2 linked regions of the Homo sapiens genome follow. The protein of the gene in region 2 purifies or fractionates together with the protein of the main gene of each other region. This does not show direct contact. Each region holds a gene or a part of one and is shown on either strand. Other genes may lie near its edges.

Region 1 (7,582 bases), about 23 Mb from region 2:
GTGATACCGTTTATGCATTTTTGCTTTAGTTGCCTGTGCTTTTGATGTCTTACTTATCTTTGCCCAAATCAATGTACTGGAGTGTTTCCCCAGTGTTTACTTCCAGCAGTTTAATAGCTACAGATCTAACATTTAAGTCTTTAATCCATTTTGATTTGATTTTTGAAAATGGTGAGAGATAAGCACTTAGTTTCATTCCCTTAAATATGGATATCTAGTTGTCCCAGGATCATTTACTGAAGGGGCTGTTCTTTCCCTAACATATGTTCTTGTCATCTTTATAAAAAATAAGTTGACTGTAACTGTGTGGATTTATTTCTGGATTCTCTATTCTGTTCCATTGGTCTCTGTCTGTTTTTAAGCCAGTACCATGTTGTTTTGGTTATGTAACTTTGCAGTATAATGCCTCCAGCTTTGTTCACTTTGCTCTGGATTGCCGTAGCTATTCAGGATCGTGTGCGGTTCAAGATAAATTTTAGGATTTTTTTTTTTTTTCTATTTCTGTCAAGAATGTCATCGGTATTTTGAGAGGAGTTGCACTGTATCTGCAGATTGCTTGGGGGTGGTATAGACATTTTAACAATATTGATTCTTCCAATACATGAACATGGACAATCTTTCCATTTCTTTGTGTCTTCTTCAATTTCTTGCATCATTGTTTTATAATAAGTTTTCATTGTAGAGATCTTTCACTGCTTTGGTTAACTTGATTAATTTCTAGGTATTTTATTTATTTGTAGCTATTCTGCAGGGGATTAATTTCTTGGTTTCTTTTTCAGATTGTTTGCTGTCAGTATATAGAAATGTGACTGATTGTATGTTGATTTTGTATCCTACAACTTCACTGAATTTATCAATTCTAATAGTTTTTTTCTAAATATAAGATTATATTGTCTACTAACAAGAGTAGTTTGACTCCTTCCTTTCCCTTTTGGATGCCTTTTATTTATTTCTGTTGTCTAATTGCTCTGGCAAGGATTTCCAGTACTATATTAACAGTGGTGAAAGTGGGCATCCTTGTCTTGTTTCCAGAATTTAAAGGAAAGTATTTCATTTTTCCCCCATTCAGTATGATACTAGCTGTGGGTTTGTTGTTGTTTATTATGTTGAGGTATGTTCCTTCTATACCCAGTTTGTTGAGAGCTGTTATCACAAAGAGATGCTGAATTTTATCAAACACTTTTTCAGTTAGTATTGAAATGATCATATGGTTTTTGTTCTTCATTTTGTTGATGTGTCACAGTTATTGACTGCATATATTTAAACATCCTTGCATACCTGGGATGAATCCCACTTGATCATGATGAATTATCTTTTTAATGTGCCTTTGAATTCAATTCACTAGTATTGTGTTGAAGATTTTTATATCTACTTCATCAGATATATCGGCCTGTAGTTCTCATTTTTTGTAGTGTCTTTCTTTGGTTTTGGTATCAGGGTAATACTGGCAAGTTTGGAAGTATTTTCTCCTCCTCAAGTTTTTGGAACAGTCTGAGTAGAACTCTTATTAGCTCTTCTTTCAGCGTTTGGCAGAATTCAGTAGCGAAAACACCAGGTCCTGGTCTACTTTGATAAGAGGCTTTTTACTACCGCTTCCATCTTGTTAATGTTGTTCTATTCAAGTTTTGGATTTCTTCATGGTTCAATCTTGGTATGTTTTTATGTGTCTCGGAATTCATCCATTTCTTCTAAGTTTTCCAATTTACTGCATATAGTTGCTCATAATAGTCTCTAAAATATTTTGAATTTCTGTGTTATCAGATGTAATGACTCCTTTTTCATCTCTGATTTTATTCATATGGATATTCTCTCTTTTACAGTCCGGCTAAAGGTTTGTTGATTTTGCTTATCTTTTAAAAAAAAAAAACAACTTTTTCTTTCATCCATCTTTTGTACTATTTTTAGTATCAATTCATTAATTTCTGCCCCAATCTTTATCATTTCTTTTCTTCTAATAATTTTGGGTTTGGTTTCCTCTTGCTTTTCTAGTTATTATTTATTTTAAAAATTTGTATAAACGTAAGGGGTGCGAGTGCAGTTTTGTTACATGGATTTATTGCAGAGTGGTAAAGTCTGGGCTTTTCTTATATTCATCACCTGAATTATGTACACTGCATACATTGCAGCCATTAAGTAATTTCTCACCATCTACTCCCTGCCCATCCCCCACCCTTCCAAGTCTCTATTATTTCACACTCTATATCCCTATGTACACATTATTTAGCTCCCACTTATAAATGAGAACATGTGGTATCTGTTCTGAGTTGTTTGCTTAAGATAATGGCCTCAGTTCCATCCATGTTGCTGCAAAAGACATGGTTTCATTCTTTTTTAAAATGTCTGAACAATATTCCATTGTGTATATATACACCACATTTTCTTTATCCAATCATCTGTTGATGGACCCTTAGGTTGATTCTACATCTTGGCTATTGTGACTAGTGCTGCAATATACATACAAATCAGGTATCTTTTTTATACAATTTCTTTTCCTTTAGATAGATACCCAGTAGTGTGACTGCTGGAACTAATTCTTCAAGACACACTGTTAGGTTGTTTATTTGAAGTGTCTGTACTTTTTGGATGCAGGGATTTATTGCTATAATCTTCCCTCCTAGTACTACTTTTGCCGTATCCTACAGGTTTTGGTATGTTGTGTTTCCATTTTCATTTGCTTCAGGAAAATTTAAAATTTTCTCTTAATTTCTTCATTGACCCAAGGGCCATTCAGAAACATAATGTTTAATTTCCATTTATTTGTATAGTTTCCAAAGTTCCTCTTGTTATTGATTTCTGGTTTTATTTCATTATGGTCAGAAAATATACTTGATTGAATTTTAATCTTTTGAATTTTGTGAGACTTGTTTTGTGGCTTAACATTTGGTTTATCCTTGAGAATGTTCCATTTGTTGAGGAAAAGAATGTATATTCTACAGCTGTTGGATGAAATGTTCTACAGATGTCTATTAGGTGAAAGTTATTTTTAATAAACAATGGATTAATAAACATATAGGTTTACTTGTAATATTATATATATATATATATATATATATATATATATATATATATATATATATATATATATATATATATATGTTTCAGAGACAAGGTCTTGCTCTGTTGCCCAGGCTGGAGTGCAATGGCATAATCGTGGCTCACTGAAGTCCTGACCTCCTGGGCTTCCGTCCTCCTGCCTCAGCCTTGTGAGCAGCTGGGACTACAGGCTCACAACACACATGGCTAATTTTATTTTTATATTCTTTTGTAGAGATGAGGTCTTGCTATGTTGCCCAGGCTGGTCTTAAACTCCCAGCCTCAAGCTGTCCTCCCGCCTTGGCCTCCCAAAGTGCTGAGTTACAGGCATGACCCATTACAACTGGCCAATTTTTTTTGTTTTAATTTCAAACACAGTAAATATGGATATAAGTAAACAAAATCTCTTTGGGGTCCTCCAAAAAAAGTGTGAAGTTTCTGAGACCAAAAAGTTTGAAAATTGCTACTGTAGGCCAAGATCCCTGGCTCTATTAGTTTGAGGAATCTTGCCAGGATACCTGCTGCCCAGTTCCTCCCTGTCAGCTTCTCTTAGGGCTTTGGTTATGTATAAATATTAGAGCTAGGGTAAGAAGCATAAATCTATGCTGCTCATAAAGTTAAGAAAAATAGGCCCCATTTTATTTTTTCTAGCTAAACATTTTCAACCAATTTATTTAAGCTTAATGTTAAATAATTTATATAAATAGAACAGTAGTATACTATACCTGTGGCATCCTAAGAAAGGAGAAATCAGGTTGTGGCATTCCAACAAGGGAACAAATTCGAGAAAGTTCAGTTACTGGTGTGGATACAGGAGGGATCTGGCTGGGGGCAGGCCAACACATATTGTCCATAGACTGAACATTATGGTACTCATTAGCACTGTGAGGCTTGTTCATATAAGATGCTACCAAAAAAGAGAAAAGAGTCTATCTTTATTAATAAAATACTATCTCAAATTATGCACTTATTGTAGGGTTTTATAGAAGAGCAAGCAGGAAACTGCTAAAAAGTGAAGTGAATTGCTCAAGGCCACCCATTATTAAATAACAGAATCAGGATTTCAGGTGGCTCTAGTTCCAAATCCTGGACTCTAGCAGTACAACCTGCCATCCAAGTGACTGTCAGCTTACCTTCAGTGGTCCTCTGGCCACGCACCTTATAAATTTGGTCGAAAACCTTGAAAAATTCAGTTAGACGCTATAGAGCCACCAACTGCATTAAAAAGATGAGTCTTCCATGAAGCACATATAAACAACTATTTAGTACTTCCTAAAATTATTGTGACTTCAGTAAAGGTTTTTGGATGAGTATAATTGATTAATGATAAATTATTAAGATAAAGATTTTAAAATATAAGTACCTAACTGCCAAAAATTAAAACCTTGAGCAGCTAATGACTACATGGTACTGCTACAGGTAAAATTTGAACAAACAAATGGCTTTCTTGTTTTGCAGAAGTAAGAAGAGAAAAATAAAAGAATGAATAAACAAATGGCTTTCTTGAGCTGAAATATAATTCATCCTTAAGTTTTGAAGTTTTGGCTTCCACCTCAATTCTTGCAATTCCACCTTACATTCTGAGACACATGGATGAATATTTTTGTGGCTCTGAAATAATATTTCTTAAAAGTTTTTTTTGAAATTGTCTTCTAAGTGTTTTTATATGGAAGATGATTTTAAAATTCTGAGTGTTCACATTCTTTATGATTAACAAACTCACTAATAGAACAAAAGCATACCTCATTGAAGAATTAATCCAAACTTCTTACTAATATAGATTAAAAAAGCAGTTAAGTGGCTTGCTCAAAGTCACAGAGCCAGTTAGTTCTATAACAGGGGCTGGATTCTGAGCTAGTGACCCTAAGACTCTAAAGCCTATGAGTTTTTTTTTTTTTTTTTCCTATACTGAAATAAAGTAAAACTTACTTGTTTTTGACAATGGGACCATCTTTATCTAATTTTGTCTTAAAATTAATTTGGTTCTATTTCAGGACCATGTCTGTCACTATAATAAATAATCAGGTTCCTAATATTTTTTGGAATTTTTAATTAATTATCACTGGAATATAAATGGGGTTAGGTTCTGCTTTTATTCCAGGTTTTGTTTTTGTTTTGACAGAGTTTCGCTCTTGTTGCCCAGGCTCGAGTGTGATGGCGTGATCTTGGCTCACTGCAACCTCCACCTCCCGGGTTCAAGCGATTCTCCTGATTCAGCCTCTGAAGTAGCTGGGATTACAGCTACTTGGTGGCGCCTGCCACCACACCCGGCTAATTTTTTGTATTTTTAGTAGAAAGGGGGTTTCACCATGTTGGCCAGGCTGGTCTCAAACTCCTGACCTCAGGTGATCCACCCGCCTTGGCCTCCCAAAGTGCTGGCATTACAGATGTGGGCCAACGTGCCCAGCCAATTCCAGGTTTTGATCTTTAATACGCTTAGATCTGCTTATTCCAAAATGTTTTTGACTTCTCTGAGAAACTTCTGCCCACATCCACTTTTGTATCAGTCATTCTTCCTGGCTGCCTTTAGTAGATCATTATACAGATAAAATGCTAAAGTATAGAGGACATTCAGGGTAGGAACAAATATGGCGGATATTTACTGAAATCCAGTTATGTGCCAGATGTTATGCTATAGGCTTTACAGACTTAAGAGTATGACTCACTTTCCTATATCTAACTCTATTAATGATTTTTAATTGATTTTGTAGATTTTTCTATTTTTACAACAGTTAGGTTATTTTAACATAATATTAATATCAATTATTAGCACCTACAATGTGTTGGACATAGTGCTGTTTTATATTTATACATGTTATATAATTACCACAAGTAATCTGTAATGTATTATTCTTATTTTATAAATAAGAAACAAGATTTCAGAAAAGTTAAATAATGTATTTAAGTTACATGATAATTTTTAAATTACTGAGGACAAAAGCTAGAATGTGCAAACTTTTAAAGGTTTGGATGTCTACAGAATGATTATCTATAACACTACAATTAAGTAATCACAAGAAGACATTTAGTGACTGTAGATCTATTGGTTACATGGTTGTATTATTATTGTTCTTTTTGTTTTTTGAGACAGGGTCTATCTCTGTTGCCCAGGTTAGAGTGCAGTGGCGTGATCTTGGCTCACTGCAACCTCTGCCTCCAAGGCTCAAGCAATCCTACCACGTCAGCCTCCCCAGTAGCTGGGACTACAGGCACACGCCACCACACCTAGCTAACTTTTGTATTTTTTAGAGAGACAGAGTTTCCGCCATGTTGCCCAGGCTGGTCTTGAACTCCTGAGCTTAAGAGATCCGCCTGCCTCAGCTTCCCAAAGTTCTGAGATTACAGGCATGAGCCACACCTGGCCAGTTATATTATTATATAACTGAAACAAATATAAAAATTATAGTTTTAAGAATAAAAGTAGTTTTGGGCCAGGTGTGGTGGCATATACCTGTAATCCCAGCACTTTGGGAGGCTGAAGTGAGAGGATTGCTTGAGGTCAGAAGTTTGAGACCAGCCTGGCCAACACAGCAAGACACCATCTCTAAAATAAATAAATACATTAAAATAAAAGCAGTTTTATCTTTAAAAGTACATGATTAAAAAGAACCAAATGAATTGAATTTTTAAAATGATATTATTGGTAATAGTATTTAGTTTACTTACCTAATTTCTTATTTTGTTTAGGCTGAGAGGGTAATCCATATTCATCTCTTCTGTTAGAGGAAACAGGGATTTCATTAGCAATCTGTTTGATTTCATTCTTATGGTCCACAGTGTTAGAGCCATCAATTTTTAGAATTTCTTTAAGCATCCGTGTTCCCTTCTTTTTGAAAATGATTCACATGGAGATGGTGAGGGTGAAGAGAACAAAGTCAACATTACATCTGTAGAACTTATTGATCTTTCTTGGAAAGAATTCCATTGTTAACAATTAAGACATTAACTACATTCAGATAGAAACTGAAAAAAAAAAACCCAACACCCACATTTCTGATACAGAAACGATACTTATCCTCCTGCTTAACTTTCATCCCAGTTACCTAGTAGCAATGTTTGAAAAGCAGGGGAACTGTGGTCTAAAGAGAAAAAGTATGGCTAAATTGCCCAGGGCAGCCTGGTTTCCTCACAAGATGACAATAATGATGTAACATACCAGCCTCCATGATGGAAGTGTTTGAACACTTGCATGGGATATGTCTGCATGGTCAACAGTCGAGAAATTACCACAGTAAGAAAGTTCCTACAAAATACGAACCATGGCAAATGACTGTGGTGACAAATGCTCTTCACTTGGAGGCTCCCCATGATGAGATGACTGTACTTCATTTTCTTTGGAGATATTCAAAGATGCTAAAAAGTTCTCAATTCCAGAGTTAGGCTAAAAGAATAAATATTTTGGGCATGAAGATGAACGTATAATACAAGAACACACAAAAAGCTGAGTTTTATGTACAAAAATGGTCATTCGATTTTCACTCAATCATCTTCCCAGGTGTTAAAGTTTGGGAAGAGAATTGGAATAAATAGTTTTTTACCTTATCAATAG
Region 2 (7,582 bases):
GAAAGTCTAACCTCTTTTTGAAATGTGCCTGTGATGAAGAGTGACAATCGGCAAAGCAAATCTAATAGGATCTCTAAAGAGCCTTTTCCTGTTGTTTACAATTGTGGCTAAAGCCCTGCACTAGAAAACAACAAATGCTAAGATCCTCCCTGCATCCCCTACCCCCGACCCCCTGGGGCACACACAACCCTCCTCCACCACGTTCTAAAAAGACTGGAAGGACTTGGAAAAACATTCCTATGGGATGAACTAGAAGGTGGCAGGACTGCTATCATCAGACCTCATTTACCCACCGCTTCCAGCTGAAAACCAGGGATTTCACAAAGGAAAAATCATGAGAGTCATAGTTCTGTGGTTTTCTCAAAAGGAGAAGGAAGGGACGCTCTTCCTTCCCACCCCTGAGAACAGGCCAAATGAGAGCAAGCCCACTGGCTGGACTGAGGGTGACCAAATGAATGTGACGATGGCATCTCATTTCCCAGGTGGACATGTGCTGGGCAGCATGTGCCTAGGACTGACCCAGAAGACACACAGCACCACACAACAGGATTGATGTGATGACAAGGCCAAGACAGAAGGCTGTGGGAGGAGTGAGGAGAAGGTGGCCAAGTGCCTGAACAATCAAAGCAGGTTTCACTCAGGAAGCTCTATCTATCTGAGTTGGGTCTTGAAGGACAAGTAAGAATTTATTATCAGGTAGACAAGGATTGGGAAGAGCATCAAGAAATGAAGAAAGGTGATGTATTCATTGGAACATGATTAGTTTAGCATGGTCAATTTGTTATTCGTAAACATAACTCTGGAGGGTAATGAGGGAAGCACGAGCTAGGAGGCTAGTTCATAACACTCAATAGATACTGATTAATGCCTATTGGCTGCCCAAGCACTGTGCTAGGTTCTGTTTAGAAATAATGCAAACAAGCAAACAGACAATAACAAAATTGGTAATGTGTTAACTGCCATGATGAGGAGAGTACTGAGAGCAGCTCAGAGCAGCATCTCCCAGACTTGAGTAGCTTGGATTGCAGAAATCCAGCTGAAAAATCCTCAGTGCAAGAAGGCAATAGAGGTGATAGATTCAGAGTATATTTAGGAGGTAGACCAGCCTAGCAGATATTGTTAGGACCCCACATATGTCCCTCACTGTTCCCATGCCCTTTACAGCTTGCCCCTGCAAGTATCTCTGAGTCTTTACCTGAAGACACTAAGGTTTGGTTTGTACAAAGGGTAAGCCAAGAATTACCAGGGAGTTAGCATCCCTGGCAGTGGTCCTCAACCAGTGTCAGATGGAAGTCAGTGGATAAATACCCCAGGTTTGCTTGCCCTTCAAATGGGACAGTTCTGAGGAATGCTTTAGGCAGAGGACTCAGATGGCAGAGTGCCAACCGCCCACAGTGGAAACCTGCTCATTAACATACCCCATACTAGCTCTCTTCCCTTCCTGGTTTCATTTCCCCATTCTCATATCGGTATTTCCTGGAATCATCTCCCATATAAACTGCTTGCATTCAGATCTTTGTCTCAAAGTCCACTTTGTGGGAACCCAACTTGAGACAAACAGAAAAAACTTTTAGAACAAGTAGATGATGAAAATGAAGACTCAAATATGAGGTCATGAGATTTTTTGCTTGCGAGACGCTGACCCTATCAATTGAGCTAAAGGACTCTTCAGTGTAAGAAAAGGGATAGATTCTGGAAGAACAGGATGAGCCTGAAAAAACTGAGCTTAAGGTGCCCAAGGGACTTGTTATCTCAAAATTCCCTGAGTACAAGGTTAAGACTCTTGACTTTGGAAAAACTGAAAAGAAATAGCAGAAAAGGAAATACACAAAAGAAGAATCCATCAGAAGTGAACATCACGTCTCCCTAAAGGGAAATTACAGTGTCTTCTTTTGACCCGAGAGAATATAAAGCCCTAGCTGTCTCTTCCAGCCGGTTTCTGTATTCTAGTTTCTCATAGTTGGAGGGACTCACTCCTTTAAAACCATACATAACTCCCCACCAGCAGCCAGCAATGGCAGCTGTAGAATCACTGTCTCCACCATGGAAAAAGGCTCGGTGGGCAAGCTCCTTCCAGGAGTCTCCTGCAGCAAGAACAGCATCGTAGGCAATCATGGGGGCATCGTGCCCACTGCTGCCACCCCAGCCAGAGTAGCTCAGGGAGGTGTAGAACTGATCCCTCTCCTTCACACCGAAAGACTCAGGGAAGGTAGGGGCTGATTCTCCATCCAAAATCCCTCTAAGTTTTAGGTAATTTTCCCATTTGGTTTGGAAGTAGGACCTGTAGAAAGGAAAAAATCTAGAGTCAATTGAAAAAAATAAAGTGAAAAGTCATAACAAAAAGCACCAGATGGATGTGTGAACAGAGAAAAATCCAACATAACTTCGGCTTCTTGCAGTAATATCATAAACTATTTAAACATCAAAATTATTTCTATATAAGTACCATTCATTCAATACATTTTTCATAAGGATCTACATAAATAAGGCATTGATCCTGTTGCTAAATAAAGAGATACATATCAAGTTAAAGGGTAAGAAATACAGGTTTGTTTTCCCTGGGAGGGTCGAGAGTAATGACCTTTTAAAGGGGAACTTCAAGACATCACAACTGTGGGTGACTTCAGCAGAAAGCCTCTTTTTATTCTAAGAAAGACAATGTGAAGTGAACTCACGAGAAGGGGAAGATGTGGCCTTACCACTTATTAGTTAGCTAGTGGAAAAACGTATCTCTGGAATTTTAACCAAGGATTTCAAAATATTATTTGTATACCAAGACAACACTGAAAAAGCAAATTCCAGGAAAGTAGGAAATAGGCATGAAAATTCATGGCAGAATAGGATAGCCACAAAAATGACAGGATTCCGTGTAAGAGGGAAACACCACAGCTGCCCTATTCATTGAGGTATCCACTTGGCTACTTTGTAGAATCATTACTGGAAGGGAACTTGAAATCCTTAGCAGATGGGTAGAAAGGGGGCTGGGGGTGAAAACCATGAGGGTTGCTGTGATCTCTGAATACAAGACATATATGTGCAGGTGGATGTACACGCACAGATTCAACCGTGTTTGAGCAGGGCGTGCGCTTACAGACTCACCAGTGTTGAAGATTTTCCTCTACAAAGTAGCCTGATTGGACAATGTACTTTTTAGCTTCTGGTAGCAGCTCCATCAGTCCTTTTCCCCACTGCAAGGGTGGTCTGCTATTCACAGCATAGGCTGTAAAAAGAGCAGACGCAAGGGCCCCCAGGTAGCCTGTTGGGTGGTGGTGGGTCATCCGACCACTCTCGATGCTCACTTGGATCAGTGTGTCCAGTTGGCTATGGTGTGGGAACCTGAGACCGATGCACATGGCCCGCATGGCAGCCCCACAGCCGCCCTCATGGCTGTTGAAGGGAATCCTCCAGCCATTGGGCTTGCCCGGCTTCAGCTGCATGGCGTTGTGCACCGAGGCACCACCTGGGGAAGAGTCGGATAAGGGATGGGGGTTAGCATAACCAAAGCAAAGGCCCCAGCAGGAATAAATAACTAAACTCTGTCTCCAAGTATTTTTGATGGAAAGGGAGAGCCAAAAAATATGATGATGCATGCCCCAAAACTCCAAACCCCACCCAACAATGTGCCTTTCTTTATGTATAACCCTTGGCAAGATAACGCTAATAAAGGCAGCAGACTCATATAGGGATCCTTGGAATCTTTACCAGTCATTACTGAGACATCACAAAAAAATTAAGAAGTAAGTATATTGTTCTCTTTTTTAAGTAAATAAGCCTTTTAAGCTCAGAGCTTAAGAAACTTCCTCAAAATCACATAATCAGCTAGTTAGTGGCTGGGTAAAATCCATCAGACTCCAAAGCCCAATTCCTTATGGAGTCCAATAAGAACCTTACAATTAGGCCGGGAGCAGTGGCTCATGCCTGTAATCCCAGCACTTTGGGAGGTGGAGGCAGGCAGATCACGAGGTCAGGAGATCGGGACCATCCTGGCTAACACGGTGAAACTCCGTCTCTACTAAAAATACAAAAAACTAGCCGGGCGTGGTGACACATGCCTGTAGTCCCAGCTATTTGGAAGGCTGAGGCAGGAGAATCGTTTGAACCCGGGAGGCAGAGGTTGCAGTGAGTCGAGATTGCACCACTGCACCCTGGCCTGGGTGACAGAGCGAGACTCCGTCTCAAAACAAAAAACCAAAAAACAAAAAACAAAAACCTCACAATTGGAGTTCCTGAACATCAAAAAGAAAGAAAGCGGCCAAAAATTCTACAGTGAAGCCCTGGGCTCAGATGAGGAGCAGTGGATTCAGGGAAACAATGTGTCTTTGGTGAGTCACTGAACCTCTGGGCCTTGGCTATCCCCTCGTGACAGTGACGTAAGCAGGCTTGTCCCCCGACCTGTCCTACTGGGGACCTGTGAATACGCATGCGAACCAAGCGATGGCAGCAACATACGATGGAGTGTGGCACTGCTGTTCCTTTACTGGTCAGTGTTTTCACAAAAATGTTCATGGATGGCACAGGTGGACAAAAAAAAGTTTCCACTTGCTAAACTGATGAGCTATCAGATGCCGAGAAAGGATGAACAGAGATTGGCATCTAAAGCCAATCCTTGGGGTGACAAGGGCCCCTTGGTATGGTGATGGGAAGCTTTCATCAGGAGGTGTTATGTGCTGAATTGAGTCCCCCCAATTCAAATGCTGTAGCTCTAAGTACCTCGATTTGGAGATAGGGCCTTTAAAGAGGTGGTTAAGCTAAAATGTGGCCTTTAGGGTAGGCCCTAATCTAATCTGCCTGGTGTCCTTACATGAAGAGGAATGCAAACACACAGAAACACCAGGGATACATGCACACAGAGGAAAGACCATGTGAGGACACAGCGAGGAGGCAGCCATCTGCAAGCCAAGGAGAGAGGCCTCAGAAGAAACCAGGCCTGTCAATATCTTGACTTGGATTTCCAGTTTCCAGAGCTGTGAGAGACAAATTTCCATTGTTTCAGCCACTCAGTCTATGCCATTTTGTTATGGCAGCCCTAGCAGCCTCAAATAGGAGAGGTAGGTCAGATGGGCCAGAGAAAATCACCTGGTGGCCCAAGTGGCTCTAACAAGTTGCCGAAGTGGGCAAGAACCACTTGTGAGCGAACCTGTGGCCAGAAGTCTCTACAAAAGCCTTTGCATTTTTTTTTCTTGAGATGGGGTCTCACTCTGTCGCCCAGGCTGGAGTCCAATGGCGCGATCTTGGCTCACTGCAACCTCCGCCTCTGGGGTTCAAGTGATTCTCGTGCCTCAGCCTCCTGGGTAGCTGGGATTACAGGTGTGCACCATCACACCCAGCTAATTTTTTAATTTTTAGTAGAGATGGGATTTCACCATGTTGGTCAGGCTAGTCTCAAACTCCTGACCTCAGATGATCTGCCCGCCTTGGCCTCCCAAAGTGCTTGGATTACAGGCATGAGCCACCATGCCTAGCCGCATTTTTCTTTAAAAATAAAAAATATACATTTTTCTTTTTACTTATTCATCACAGAAAACTTAGAAATACAAGTAAGTAAAAATAAAAAACTATAAATACTCCCATCACCCAAATATAATTAGTAACATCTTTGTACATGTTCTTCAAGATCTTTCTCAACACAGAAATACATATCTATTTTTTAAAAAAAAGTTTTTTTTTGGCCAGGCATGGTGGCTCATGCCTGTAATCCCAGCACTTTGGGAGGCTGAGGCAGGTGGATCAACTGAGGTCAGGAGTTCGAAACCAGCCTGGCCAACATGGTGAAACCCCATCTCTACCAAAAATACAAAAATTAGCCAGACGTGGTGGTGCGTGCCTGTAATCCCAGCTACTTGGGAGGCTGGGGCAGGAGAATCGCTTGAACCTGGGAGGCAGAGGTTGCAGTGAGCCGAGATCGTGCCACTGCACTCCAGCCTGGGCAACAGAGTGAGACTCCATCTCAAAAAAAAAAAAATTTTTTTTTAACTGGCCACTCAAAAAAATTTTTTTTAAAGACAGGCTTTTGCTATGTTGCCCAGGCTGGTCTCAAACTCCTGGACTCAAGCAATCCTCTCACCTTGGCCTTTCACAGTGTTGGGATTACAGGTGTAAGCCACAGCACTTGGCCCCACAGATCTATTTTTTAAAGGACAGTAGGTTCATAACATACATACTATTTTATAACCTATTAGTGTATAATAATACTTTTCAATATTAGTAAATATTATTTGCAAATTTTAAATTTTTATTAATATTTAAATTGACAAATCAATTATATACATTTATTTAGTATAATGTGATGATTTGATATATGTAAACAATGTGGGATGATCAGGCTAATTAGCATATCTATTGCCTCACTTTTTTTTGTGGTGAGACATTTGAAATTTACTCTATTGGTTATTTTGAAATATACGATACATTGTTATTGAGTAGAGTCACCCTGAATAATTTTAAATGGTTGCAAATGTGTCAGCTTAATTAATTATGAGAGATTTAGGTTCTTTCTATTTATTTCTTTATTTTTTAGAGTCAGGGTATTGCTTTGTCACTCAGGCTGGAATGCAGTGGCACGATCCTAGCTCACTGTAGCCTCAACCTCCCGGGCTCAAGCAATCATCCTACCTCAGCCCCCCAAGTAGCTGGGACTACAGGTATGTGCCATGACACCTGGCTAATGTTTTAAAAATTTTTTTCTGGAGTTGTAGTCCCCAGCCTTTTTGGCACCAGCGACCGGTTTTACAGAAGATAATTTTTCCATGGACGGGGTTGGTTGGGGGAGGTTTTGGGACAAAACTGTTCCACCACAGATCATCAGACATTAGATTCTCATAAGAAGCCCACAATCTAGATCCCTCGCATGTGCAGTTCCCAACAGGGTTCAGGCTCCTATGAGAATCTAATGCGCCACTGATCTGATGGAGGCAGAGCTCAGGTGATGATGCTCCTTCGCCCATCACTCACTTCCTGCTGTGTGCTCCAGTTCCTAACAAGCCACGGATCAGTACCTGTCTCTAGAAGAGGGATTGGCTACCCCATTCTAGAGACAGGGTCTCCGTATATTGCTCAGGCTTGTCTTGAACTCCTGGGTTCAAGTGATTCTCTCACCTTGGCCTCCCAAAGAGCTGGAATTACAGGTATGAGCCACCACCATGGCCGTTATTTCTATTTTTATCACATTTACAAACACTATTGTCTCTGTTATTTAAATCTCCATCAACATTCTTAATGATTTCCTCAAGGCTGTTTTATTCTTTGCCCTCCTTGCACCTCCCACCGGCTGTGCTCACCTGGTGCCCGCCCATCCATGTCTTCCATGCAGTCTTGGTAATGCTTAGCAAGGAGGTAATACAGTTGAGTCAACTTAGGGGCTTTCCCAGCTTCCACAAGAGCTTCTGCTGTGGCCAAGTGCATCACTGTGTCGTCACTAACTCTCCACCTTCCCACGTCTAGGGCATCCAAGCCGCCCAGCTGGGCCAACTGCCGGTGTATCTTCTCCCCATCCTGGAGGAACTCCCACTTCCCATTGTAGTACCCCAGGGCATCTCCAGCTGCACTCAGCACCATAGCAGCCACATACTTCTCCATCAGTCCC

The links. Proteins that work in one complex are often made in the same cells at the same time.
Region 1: the proteins of ADPRH (region 2) and XRN1 purify together in Homo sapiens (affinity purification with mass spectrometry; 2 studies listed by BioGRID and IntAct, with this or other methods). This does not show direct contact.

The regions. Positions count from the first base shown.
Region 1 is NC_000003.12:142,325,676-142,333,257, forward strand, and holds part of XRN1 (5'-3' exoribonuclease 1), read right to left. Parts: intron 7,415-7,582; coding exon 7,292-7,414; intron 6,860-7,291; coding exon 6,700-6,859; intron 3,963-6,699; coding exon of another isoform or gene 3,941-3,962; coding exon 3,759-3,940; intron 1-3,758. UniProt on the Homo sapiens protein: Major 5'-3' exoribonuclease involved in mRNA decay. Required for the 5'-3'-processing of the G4 tetraplex-containing DNA and RNA substrates. The kinetic of hydrolysis is faster for G4 RNA tetraplex than for G4 DNA tetraplex and monomeric RNA tetraplex.
Region 2 is NC_000003.12:119,582,163-119,589,744, reverse strand, and holds part of ADPRH (ADP-ribosylarginine hydrolase), read right to left. Parts: 5' UTR 7,576-7,582; coding exon 7,278-7,575; intron 3,461-7,277; coding exon 3,100-3,460; intron 2,282-3,099; coding exon 1,867-2,281; 3' UTR 1-1,866.